Linked DNA regions of Homo sapiens. The protein of the gene in region 1 binds, or shares a complex with, the protein of each later gene. Each region holds a gene or a part of one and is shown on either strand. Other genes may lie near its edges. The genes, in order: PLOD3 and COLGALT1. A codon is read from its position in the direction of its gene.

Region 1 (7,877 bases):
CTCAATACACATGGCCCTCACACTCAGCATCTCACCTCCTACCTCAAAGGAACCAGGGGCCACCCATGCTTGGATACGCTCATCTTCCAGGCCACCTACCCACAAACGTGATGCCAAGTGGGCACACCCCTGCCCTGGAGCGCCCCAAGTCCCACCACTGACCCCGAGCCTTCACCTCCAGCCCATTCCCTCCCTCTCCCATCTTCAACCCCTCCTCCTCAACCGGCACTTTCCATCAAAGAGCTGGCGACGCTCATGTGTCTACTCGGCTTCACAGCTCCTTCTCCTTCACAGCAACTCACGTGATGTGTCACTTTTTCACCTCCCATCCTCTCCTTGAACCCCAAAATCTGACACCTGCCTGGTCATCCTGGGGGACCACCCACCCACGCTCTGGGCCCCAGAGCGGCTCCAGTGTGCCTTCCTCCTCCTCCTTGGACCTGAGCCCTGTCCACCCTGTGGCGGTGCCGACTACCTTCATCGAGTAGAAAGAGACCCTTTGCTTGCTTCCTTGACAAAACTGCAGGCCTTCTCCATGTCCAGGAATCCTCCGGCTCCAGCTCGGCTGCTCTCCCTGCCTCTATGGAGGTGGCTGGCCCTCTTCTCTGCTCAGTCTATGCACTCTTCCTGGGATTTTGACTCCAAACAAAGGGCTCTGATGATCACCCACAAGCAAATGACTCCCAGAGTGACTCCCTCAACACAGAACCTGCTCCCGGGCTCCAGAACTGGCCATGCAGCCAGCGCCTGGTGAGGCCGGGTGTGGTGGCGCACGCCTGTAATCTCAGCACTTTGGGAGGCCAAAGGATCGCTTGATGCCAGGAGTTAGAAACCAGCCTGGGCAGCATAGCCAAACCCCATCTCTACAAAAAATTAAAAAATAAGCCAGGCGTGGTTGCACATGCCTGTAGTCCCAGTTACTTGGGAGGCTGCGGTGGGAGGACTACATGGGCCCGGGAGGTTGAGGCTGCAGTGTGCAGCAAGCCGTGATCGCGCCACCACTCCAGCCTGAGTGACAAAGCAAGACTGTCTCCAAAAAAAAAAAAAAAGAAAGAAGGAAAAAAGAAATCACCCACTGGCCCTGTGGACACTGCAACTCAAAAAAAAAAAAAAATTCCCATCCAAGTCTGCTTCTCCTGCAGATTCTCTCTACGCAAATGGAACCGTCTATGCAGACATCCAAACCAGAAACCTAGAAGTTATTTTAAACCTCTTTCCTCGGCTGGACATAGTGGCTCACCCCTGCAATCCCAGCACTTTGGGAGGCTGAGGTGGGCTCATCACTTCAGGTCAGGAGTTCGAGACCAGCCTGACCAACGTGGTGAAACCATGTCTCTACTAAAAATACAAAAATTAGCAGGGTGTGGTGGCACATGCCTGTAATCCCAGCTACGCGGGAGGCTGAGGCACAAGAATCGCTTGAACCCGGGAGGTGGAGGTTGCAGCGAGCTGAGATCGCGCCATTGCATTCCAGCCTGGGCAACAGAGAGAGACCCTGTCTCAAAAACAAAAAACAAAAAACCTCTTTCCTCATTGCCTTATCAGCTGTTTGCCAGATTCTGATAATTTTGCATAATATATCTCTTTATTCATTAACCACCTGTTAAGCATAATAATAACAGCAGCAGCCCCAGTAGCTATCACTTGTTGGACACTTACTATGAGCCAGGCACGTGCTCAGCTCTTTGCAACACTTGAACCATTTAACCCTTACAACAGCTGTATGGGACAGTATCATCATCCCCAATTTACCAACATTCAGAGATTAAGAAATGTGTCCAAAGTTCACATAGCTAACAAGTGGCCAGGTCAGGAGTCAAAGAACTACCCAGCATCAAAAAGCATGACCTTGCCAGGCGCAGTGGCTCATGCCTGTTATCTCAGCACTTTGGGAGGCCAAGGTGGGTGGATTGTTTGAGCGCGGGAGTTCGAGGCCAGCCTGGGCAACATGGCAAAACCATGTTTCTACAAAAAAAATACAAAAATTAGCCAGGTGTAGTGGGACACACCTGTAGTCCCAGCTATTCAGGAGGCTGAGGCGCAAGGATTGCTTGAGCCCAGGAGCTCAAGGCTGCAGTGAGCTGTGTTTGTGCCACTGCACTCCAGCCTGGGTGACAGAGCAAGACCCTGTTTCAAAAAAAAAAAAAAAAAAAAAAAAACCCAAAACCAACCAAACAAAAAAAAATATGATTATGATCACTGTACTACTCTGTCTCCCCTCCAAATGCCAGGCAGTGCTCTAGGTTTTAGGGATGCCAAAGCTTACAGTCCAGTGGCAAACACAAATGATTAATGAAACAAACACAGTAAGTACAGCATGGAGTAGGCTAGGATACGGAAGTATAAAGTGCTGCAGAGCCCAGGACAGAAACACCCAACCTGGCCTTGGAGTAGTCAGGGAAGACTTCCCAGAAGAAGGTAAGTCTAGGTTAAGGCCTAACTGGTGAATGACCTGGCTAGGGGAGACAGCGGGGTATTTCAGACCTTGAGGCCAACATGAAAAAACTGATGGCTGGGAGACTGCGATGCCTTTGAAAAACTGAGAGGGCCAAGCGCAGTGGCTCATGCCTGTAATTCTAGCATTTTGGGGGGCCGAGGCGGGTGGATCACGAGGTCAGGAGATCAAGACCATCCTGGCTAACATGGTGAAACCCTGTCTCTACTAAAAATACAAAAGATAAGCTGGGTGTGGTGGCGGGCGCCTGTAGTCCCAGCTACTCCAGAAGCTGAGGCCAGAGAATGGTGTGAACCCGGGAGGCAGAGCTTGCAGTGAACCGAGATTGCGCCACTGCACTCCAGCCTGGGGGACAGAGCAAGACTCCGTCTCAAAAAGAAAAAAAAAGAAAGAAAGAAAAACTAAAAGGGCCAAGCGCAGTGGCTCATACTTGTAATCCTAGCATTTTGGAAGGCCGAGGCAGGAGGATCACATGAGCTCAGGAGTTCAAGACCAGCCTGGGCAACATAGTGAGACACCCATCTCAACAAAAAATATAAAAACTAGCCCAGCATGGTGGCCTGCACCCACCTGTAGTTCCACCTACTCAGGTGGCTGAGGTGGAAGAATCACTTGAGCATGGGAGGTTGAGGCTGCAGTGAGTTATATAGAACCACTGCATTCCAGCCTGGGTGACAGAGCAAGACTCTGTCTAAAAAAAAAAAGTCTTTGCTGGCTCTCCAGTGTTTCCCTACAGAGTTCAAACTCCTGGGCAGTGTGTATAATGCCTTTCAAAATGTAACCTTTCCCCAGCCTTCGATCCTTTCTTATTACTCTGTAAGATCCAAACTGTGAACTTGGCTTCCTAAGCGACTTGCTTTTTCTTGCTTCACTGCCTTTGCACGTGAGGTTCCCACTGAGAGAAACCCTAACTAGACTTTCAAGACTCAATTCAAGCTTTTTCATTTTTCCTTCAAGCTTTCACAGTCCCCTGCCTCCCAGAACCTGGGCTAGATGCCACGTCTCCCTGTTCCCAGGCGCTGTGCTTCCCTCTGCCATAGCACAAATCACAAATCACAGTAAAATACAGTGTTAGGTCTGCGTTTCTGCCCCCCTTCCAGAAAAAGCCAATGCTTGGATAAGAGGGGTCTTTCTCCTCTTCATCCCCAGCGCCCGGCTTGGAGCAGGCACCAATAAAACGTGAATGAAGGGTCAACGCCAGGACCCGAGGGCTGAGGAAGGGATTTACGAGGAATAGCTGGGGCCGGGCGCGGCAGCTCACGCCTGTAATCCCAGCACTTTGGAAGGCCCACGCAGGAGGATCGCTTTGAGGCCAAGAGTTGGAGACCAACCTGGGCAACATAGCGAGAGCCCGTCACCACATAACAAATTAAAAATTAACCAGGCGTGGGGCCTCATGCTTGCAGTTCCAGCCACTCCGGAGGCTGAGGTGGGAGGATGGTTTGATCCCAGGAAATCGAGGCTGCAGTGAGCTATGACTATGCCACTGCACTCCAGCCTAGGCGAAAGAGCGAGACCAAAAAAGAGGAATGACTAGGTAAGAAAATTCTAGGACTGACTTGGGAAGGGGAAGGGGGCGAACCGCGGGGGCTCACATACCCGAAGTTTTCTTCTCCACCATTGGCACAACACAACTGTCGGAAGAAACTGCTGCGCACGCGTACTAACCCCAAGGCTTTAGTAGGGGCGCCATCACTTCCGGTAGCTTGTACTTCTGCGCGTGCGCCACAGCTTTGACTCATTACGTGGCGTTTCCTTGGAGACAAGAAAGCTTTTCGCCATGTTTTATAGGGGCAAAACCACTTCCGGCCTCAGTGTGGAGGTGTAAATCTTGTGGGAGCCACGAAATGGGTCATTTTAAAGATGTGGTCACGGTGTTCTTACAAGAAATCTTATTTTCCTTTGGTCCTTGTGAAGATGCTGTGATCACAAAGGCAGCCCCTGGAGCTTCTCCGGGCAGAAGAGGAGGTGGGCTGGACTGTCAAAGAAAGTGGCTGGCTTCCGTGGGCAATCCGAGGTTCCTAGTGGCCCTCTGCAGAAAGCTGAACTCCCAGTTCCCCCAGGCCTCCGTCCCGCGGCGGACTCCTAGGCTTCCTCCCTCCCTGTCGCCGCCAGCCTCTCGCTCTCCCCGTCTTCCGCCCGCACTCTCTGGGCAGGGCTGCGGCCAGGACCCGCCCCCGCGTCCCGCCCGACCCTCCGCCAGGGGTCACTTCCCCTGTCCAGGTTTCAGCTTCCACATGTGTCAAGCGGCTGGCTCAGCCCAGAGTCCCTGTCTCCCGCCCGCCGGCCCGAGCCGCCGCCCCTCCCCCGCCTCCCGTGCGCCCGGGACAATCCTCGCCTTGTCTGTGGCGCCGGCATCTGGAGCTTTCTGTAGCCTCCGGATACGCCTTTTTTTCAGGGCGTAGCCCCAGCCAAGCTGCTCCCCGCGGCGGCCGCACAGCAGCCCGAGCGCCCCCTTTCCAGAGCTCCCCTCCGGAGCTGGGATCCAGGCGCGTAGCGGAGATCCCAGGATCCTGGGTGCTGTCTGGGCCCGCTCCCCACCATGACCTCCTCGGGGCCTGGACCCCGGTTCCTGCTGCTGCTGCCGCTGCTGCTGCCCCCTGCGGCCTCAGCCTCCGACCGGCCCCGGGGCCGAGACCCGGTCAACCCAGGTGAGATCCCGGGGAGGCCCGGCACGGCCGAGGGGGCAGAGGCTGGCGTGCCTGCCAGCCTGGCCCGGAGAGGGTCGGAGGCTCGAGGAGGTGTCTGGCCCGTCCCCCGCCCAGCGTGCTCTTGAGGCTGAGTCGCGCCAAGCCCCTCGCCCATCACTACCCTGAACTGGGGTTTCCAGCCTCCCTATGCAAAGGGACTCGGAATTCCTGGGCACCACTCCCACCCTGCCCTCCTTGGGGTCAGAGTGTTCCTGGGTGAGAAGAGTTTAAGAATGGGAAGGAAGAAAGGGAGGGAAGTCGAGTGAGAGGGAGGACAGCAAAGCACGTGAGGCCCGGAGCTGGGCGGTGGATCTCAAGTGCCATTTCCCTCTGGTAACAGAGAAGCTGCTGGTGATCACTGTGGCCACAGCTGAAACCGAGGGGTACCTGCGTTTCCTGCGCTCTGCGGAGTTCTTCAACTACACTGTGCGGGTGAGGAGAGGGAAAGGCCCCTGGGAGGGGGTCCCAGCAGGAGGGGTGGGCTGAAGTCTGGATGCCCAGGTCCCCACGGTAAGCCTGGTCAGGAGTTCCCCCCACAACTCCCCACCCCTTGCCTGGCACGGGGCAATCTTCTCCACAGACCCTGGGCCTGGGAGAGGAGTGGCGAGGGGGTGATGTGGCTCGAACAGTTGGTGGAGGACAGAAGGTCCGGTGGTTAAAGAAGGAAATGGAGAAATACGCTGACCGGGAGGATATGATCATCATGTTTGTGGATAGGTAACGGGGCTGGGGATAGGGAGCGGGGTAAGGATGCTGAGGTTCCCAGTGGACCCCTGCCCATCCTCCCCTTCCTCACCCAGCTACGACGTGATTCTGGCCGGCAGCCCCACAGAGCTGCTGAAGAAGTTCGTCCAGAGTGGCAGCCGCCTGCTCTTCTCTGCAGAGAGCTTCTGCTGGCCCGAGTGGGGGCTGGCGGAGCAGTACCCTGAGGTGGGCACGGGGAAGCGCTTCCTCAATTCTGGTGGTGAGTGGCAGAGTGCCCAAGGCAGAGGGGCCAAGAGCGGTGGGACACAGAGTGTTAAAGGCGCCTGAGGGCTGGAGACAGCCTGGGGGACAGGCCCTGGGACCCTGGGAGTCTCGAGGTCAACACTCCCCCTCCCCGCCAGGATTCATCGGTTTTGCCACCACCATCCACCAAATCGTGCGCCAGTGGAAGTACAAGGATGATGACGACGACCAGCTGTTCTACACACGGCTCTACCTGGACCCAGGACTGAGGGTAGGGAAGGCAGAGGAGTGGGCGCATCCCGCAGCTCTGTGGGAGTGGAGGCCTCAGGCTGAATGGGATTTGGGGAGCAAAGGGGGTTGCAAAGAGAAAAATGTGTGCCTGGGCGTGGTGGCTCACGCCTGTCATCCAAGACTTTTGGGAGGCTTAGGCAGGAGGATTGCTTGAGTCCAGGAATTTAAGACCAGCCTGGACAACATAGTTGAGACCTCATCTCTACAAAAAAAAAGAAAGAAAAAATTAGCCAGGCTTCATGGTGTACGCCTGTAATCCCAGCTACTTGGGAGGCTGAGGTGGGACCATCACTTGAGCCCAGGAGTTTGAGGATGTTTTGCACCACTGCATTCCAGCCTGGGTGACAGAATGAGACTCTGTCTCTCACAAAAAAAGGAAAACCATGGTGGCTCATGCCTATAATCCCAGCACTTTGGGAGGCTGAGGCGGGTGGATCACCTGAGATTGGGAGTTTGAGACCAGCCTGGCCAACATGGTGAAACCCCGTCTCTACTAAAAATACAAAAATTAGCCAGGCGTGGTGACACTCTCCTGTAGTCCCAGTTACTTGGAAGGCTGAAGCAAGAGAATCAATTAAACCGGGAGGCAGAGGTTGCAGTGAGCTGAGATCGTGCCATTGCACTCCAGCCTAAGCAACAAAAGCAAGAGAAGAAAAAAAGAGAGAGAAAAGTGAGAAATGATGTCCTTTCCACTCCTTCCATTTTAACCACTCCATCGCATCTCATTCCATTTAGGAGAAACTCAGCCTTAATCTGGATCATAAGTCTCGGATCTTTCAGAACCTCAACGGGGCTTTAGGTGAGGAGGAAGACAGCCGCAGGTGGGCGATGCGCAGCCTCTGCAGCTAGGGGTCTTGAGCTGGGAGAGGCTTCTGGAGGAGCTGGGCTGATCCAAGCCCACCTCTATGTGGTTTTGTCAGGCGTCTGAGTGGCTGGTTGTGTAAGTTGCACTGTGCTGATGGTACTACCAGAAGCAAGGGAAGCAAAAACGTGTCTGGCATCTGTTGCACACATGCTGTGCCTGGGCACCGGGCCAGGGACTTTTTTTTTTGAGACAGAGTTTCGCTCTGTTGCCCGGGCCGGAGTGCAGTGGTCCAATCTTGGCTCACTGCAGCCTCCACCTCCCGGGTTCAAGTGATTCTTCTGCCTCAGCCTCCCGAGTAGCTGGGATTACAGGCATGCGCCACCACGCCCAGCTCATTTTGTATTTTTAGTAGAGACAGGGTTTCACCATGGTGGCCAGGCTAGTCTCGAACTCCCAACCTCAGGTGATCCGCCTGCCTCAACCTCCCAAAGTGCTGGGATTACAGGCATGAGCCACTGTGCCCGGTCTACTTCTGTGATTCCATTTAACAAAGGGAAGGTCCCTGGTTATCCTTCTTGTACAGATGAGGAAAACAGCTTGTGGAGGGGTTGGTGACTTGCCTCAGGGGATGGGGAGAACGGGGAGAGAGAGAGGCCAGGCACGGTGCCTCACGCCTGTAATCCCAACA
Region 2 (4,196 bases), on another chromosome or scaffold:
GTTTTAGGGGGACTCAAAGCACGACAGCCCCTCTTTATTCGAAGTCATGTGGAAGGATCCTGAAGTTGACTCAAGACAGAGCTGTCGGTCCCCCGCCTGTTTGGGGGAAGTTTTATGGCATGAGGGGACACAGGGCTCTTACCACACCCTCACCCCACAGTAGCTCCACTGGCCAGCTTTTTTTTTTTTTTTTTGGTTTGATTGTGTCTTGCTCTGCCGCCCAGGCTGGAGGGCAGTGGCTCAATCTTGGGTCACTGCAACCTCCACCTCCCAGGTTCAAGCGATTCTCCTGCCTCAGCCTCCCAAGTAGCGAGGATTACAGGTACCCCCCCCCCGCCACCCCGCCCCACTACACTAGGCTAATTTTTGTACTTTTAATAGAGAGGGGGTTTCACCATGTTGGCCAGGCTGGTCTTGAATTCCTGACCTCAAGTGATCCGCCCACCTTAGCCTCCCAAAGCACCGGGATTACAGGCATGAGCCACCATGCCAGGCCCCACTGGGCAGCTTCCCTACTGCACCTGCCCTGGTTTCCTCCCAAATCTTGTCGGCCATCCAGGGGTGGGGAACGTGGGCAGTGTTTTGGTGCCGAGCAAAATCCCACAAACTGCTGTGAAAACCAACCAGGAACATTTATTAAAAAACTAAGCAAGTTATCCCCAAGAGGGTGAAGCACCGCTGGCTGGTTCTGACATTCGATTCAGGCTGAAGGCACGGCAACTCCTCCAGCCCTTGCTGGGAAATGTCCTACCCAGGCCACGGGCAGTGCCCCAGTGCAGCTGGGTCCCCTAAAAGCCCCCAAACACATGATCCCACCAAAGGCTTGAACAGAGCAACTTCATCAAGCAGGCAGGGACCACACCTGAGACACAAGGGCAAGGAGGTAAAGCACAGGGGACCGGGAGTGGGCCAGGGACACCCAGCCCCCGTCTCCAACTGGCGCCCCCTCCAGGGGGGCTAACATGTGGCGTGGGGCCACCAGGACCTGTGCTTGCCCCTGGTGGCGGAAGAGCTACCCTCCCTCTTGGGTGGTGGGGGGATGTTGTCTGCACACAGCTCAGACGACCGAGGGTACAGGAAGAATCAAACTCAGTCAACCATTCTTCAACCCAACTGGGAGTCTGTGAGGCCTGGCACACAGGTGCTCAATAAACACTTGTGGCATGAAGAAGTGAAGGAACCGATCTTGTTCATCTCTGTGCCCCAGCACTCGGCATGTAGCCCATGATCGAAAATGCAGACTGAACAACTGTCACACTCTTTTGTATCACTAGTGCCCGGCACACAGTCAGTGCTCTTCAGGTGTGTGGGAAAGAAGCCAATGAGTGAGAAGTTCCCACACCGTCTAGCAGTGAGGAAAAAAAGAAAAAAGTAAAAAGTACCTTGTTTACTCCCATTCCCATCCCATAGCTCAGCTCCCTGCACACAGCAGGTGCTCAGTAAGTGTACCGAATCAGGAACTTATCTTTGTGACATGAGTGCCAGGCACACAGTAGGTGACCAATATGTGCTTGAATAAATGGATAGAAGCATCTTATTTATCTCAATATTCCCAGAGCCTGGGCTGGGCACAGTGGCTCATGCCTGTAACCCTAGCACTTTGGGTGGCCAAGGCGGGCAGATCACTTGAGGTCAGGAGTTCGAGACCAGCCTGGCCAACATGGTGAAACCCCGTCTCTACTAAAAATACAAAAACTAGCCAGATGTGATGGCACGCACCTATAGTCCCAGCTACTTGGGAGGCCGAGAAACAAGAATTGCTGGACGCTGGGAGGCGCAGGCTGCAGTGAGCCGTCACACCACTGCACTCCAGCCTGGGTGACAGAGACAGACTCTACTCTTAAAAAAAAAAAAAAAAAAATCCCAGAGCCTGGAATGGCACCCAACACACAGTAGGCACTCAATAAATCCTTGAATGAATTTTAAAAATGAATGTGTATCACTAGTGCCTGATTCTTAATCTGATCAGTAACTGCTTGATGACTGAATCAATCGCTGATGGAGGGAACAATTATGCCTCATTCACTGCCGTAACATGGGAACCTTGCATACAGCAGGTGCTTAATAAATGCTGGGCACATGAACAGATGAAGAGGGCTTGGTTCCTCCCAATTCCCCAGGGCCAAGCCCTGTTGCTGGCATGCAGTAGGCACTCCATTAATGCTGCCTGTGTGCACGTGATTGCTTAGCAAGAGCTGGCTGGACACCACCCCACACGAGAGCCCTCTGTGGCCTGCCAAGGGGTCCAGAGGTGGACCTGATGTCCTCAGTAAGCACGTGGAGCCTGGGCCACCGATGGCTGCTTTGGCTTTCTGGCTGCTACCCCTCAGAGTTCATCCCGGGCAGCACTGTCCAGTGGGGACTGGAGCACGTCCGAGTTCTTGGCCTCACGGCTCAGTGCCTGCTGCTCCCGCATCTTCTGGGACTTGGCGCGGTCCCAGTCGGTCTTGACGTGCTCATTGTTCCATACGACTGAGGTCTCGGTGTCACTCACATAGCCATCGTCTCCTGTGTAGTGTGTGGGGTAGATGAGCAGCGGCTCCACAGAGAAGGCATGCAGGTTGCGGAGGGAGAAGTGGGCCTTGTACTCGGACCTGGGGGGAGGAGGAGGGGAGTGAGGGGCAGCAATGGCTTCAGGGGACGGGACAGCTGGAGGAAAAATTGGGGGTGAAGAAGTCAGCGGGGACAGATTAAAACGTAAGTGTGCAGGGGATACAAATGGAGACAGATCTGCGAGGGGGCAAACGGAGGGAGAAGTAGGCAAAAGAAGAGACATCTTCTCGGAGGCCGTGAGTCTCACATCCCCATTCTCCCAGGACAGACCCACCGTGAAACCCCAGCCCAGCAGCCGCCTGCCCCTCTCACACTGGGTGTTTGTCGAACATGACGGGCAGGAACTCGTCCACAGGCAGCATCTTGGAGAGCGGCTCAGCAGCCAGCAGTTTGCGGGCGCCTTGCAGGGAGATCACGTAGGCCAGGGTCCAGTAGGAATAGTCGGCCTCCACCAGGTTCCTCACGCGAGGCACAGCCTTCTCGGGGTGCTCCACCTGCATCCGCTTCCGGCCCACATAGCTGGGGTGCAAGATCGGGCCTGTCACTCTCCTCCCGCCCTCCGGAGGGAGCTTGCCCAGAAAGCCAGGGATCTAGTTACCCCGTCAGGTCCTGGGATGGGAGCAGGCTCAGCATGTTTGCAGAGCTCTGTGACTGGATGGAGTGAATGCAGGAGCCCAGGGGTCTGGCGGTCATGGGGGAGAAGAGTGAGTTTTTCCAAAGGGCGTGAGGGAGCCATGGAGGATCTGGAGCTGGGGAGAGCAGGATCACGCAGACGTTCTCTGAGGCTGAAGCTGCTCTGAGTTCAGAGGACAGTGGGGGTGGAGGTGGGCGAGGTGCCCTGATGGGGGGGCAGTCAGGAATGGAGGGGTGCAGTTACTATTCACATGGGGCAGTGTTCCCAGAATGCAGATTAGGGCACTGCACATGGAAGGGAAAAAAGAGATGGAGGAAGGGAGAGGACAAACCAGCCCACTTACAGAAGAGAAGGACGGCTCCAGTGCTGGAAACATGTTGGTGGCACTCCCATCCAGGGGCTTGTCTAAGACCAGGCGCCCTGGCCACGCCCCCACACTCTTCGGCCACACCTCCAGCTCTGACCACACCCCCATGCTCTTCAGCCACGCCCACAGGCTGCCCGGTCAAATTTTAGCCACATCCACCTCCACAGGCCTCAGTCAAGTCTCTAAGCCTTGACCAAGCCTGCAGGCTTCCGGCCAGGTCCCTTGAGTTCTGGGTGATCCTTCCAACGCCCTTCCCTATAGGCTACAGCCCTGACAGTGCCTTCAGGCCCAGGAACCACGTGAGCCCTCCTGCTACGCTTCCAAGGGTTGGCCACGCCTGCCACCCTGACCACACCCAGACATACAGGCTCTAGGCTCAGCTGCAGCGCTGTGGCCACGCCCGTAGGATTCAGCTCCACTCCGCCTCCCAGCCCCACCTCTAAGCCCTGGCCATGTACCTAGGCTCCAGTTCCACCCCACCTTCAAGCCCCGCCTCTAAGCCATGACCCATCCCCAGGTCCCAGCTCCACCCTGCCCCCACCCCCACCTCTAAGTCCTGGCCTTGCCCCAGGCCCCAGCTTCACCCCATCCTCAGACCCCCACTCACATGAGGTCCCAGTCCAGGCCCTCCCGCTCCACATC

The links.
Region 2: the proteins of PLOD3 (region 1) and COLGALT1 are in contact, whole or in part, in a cryo-EM structure (PDB 8ZGE), measured with the Homo sapiens proteins. Residues at the interface, in NP_001075.1 of Homo sapiens: Leu226 (codon at 7,180), Val229, Val230, Leu231, Lys232, Phe233, Asp234, Arg235, Arg241, Gln261, Tyr264, Leu265, Pro275, Gly430, Ala431, Leu432, Arg440, Glu442, Glu446, Arg452; in NP_078932.2 of Homo sapiens: Ala36, Tyr37, Phe38, Pro39, Glu40, Glu41, Arg42, Trp43.

What each region holds. Positions count from the first base shown.
Region 1 is NC_000007.14:101,214,395-101,222,271, reverse strand, and holds the start of PLOD3 (multifunctional procollagen lysine hydroxylase and glycosyltransferase LH3 precursor), read left to right. Parts: upstream 1-4,690; 5' UTR 4,691-4,997; coding exon 4,998-5,106; intron 5,107-5,485; coding exon 5,486-5,577; intron 5,578-5,725; coding exon 5,726-5,862; intron 5,863-5,945; coding exon 5,946-6,109; intron 6,110-6,251; coding exon 6,252-6,364; intron 6,365-7,119; coding exon 7,120-7,183; intron 7,184-7,877. Other genes in the region: ZNHIT1 (zinc finger HIT domain-containing protein 1), read right to left, coding at 3,787-3,853. UniProt on the Homo sapiens protein: Multifunctional enzyme that catalyzes a series of essential post-translational modifications on Lys residues in procollagen. Plays a redundant role in catalyzing the formation of hydroxylysine residues in -Xaa-Lys-Gly- sequences in collagens.
Region 2 is NC_000019.10:17,579,575-17,583,770, reverse strand, and holds the end of COLGALT1 (procollagen galactosyltransferase 1 precursor), read right to left. Parts: coding exon 4,162-4,196; intron 3,073-4,161; coding exon 2,866-3,072; intron 2,595-2,865; coding exon 2,327-2,594; 3' UTR 614-2,326; downstream 1-613. UniProt on the Homo sapiens protein: Beta-galactosyltransferase that transfers beta-galactose to hydroxylysine residues of type I collagen. By acting on collagen glycosylation, facilitates the formation of collagen triple helix. Also involved in the biosynthesis of collagen type IV.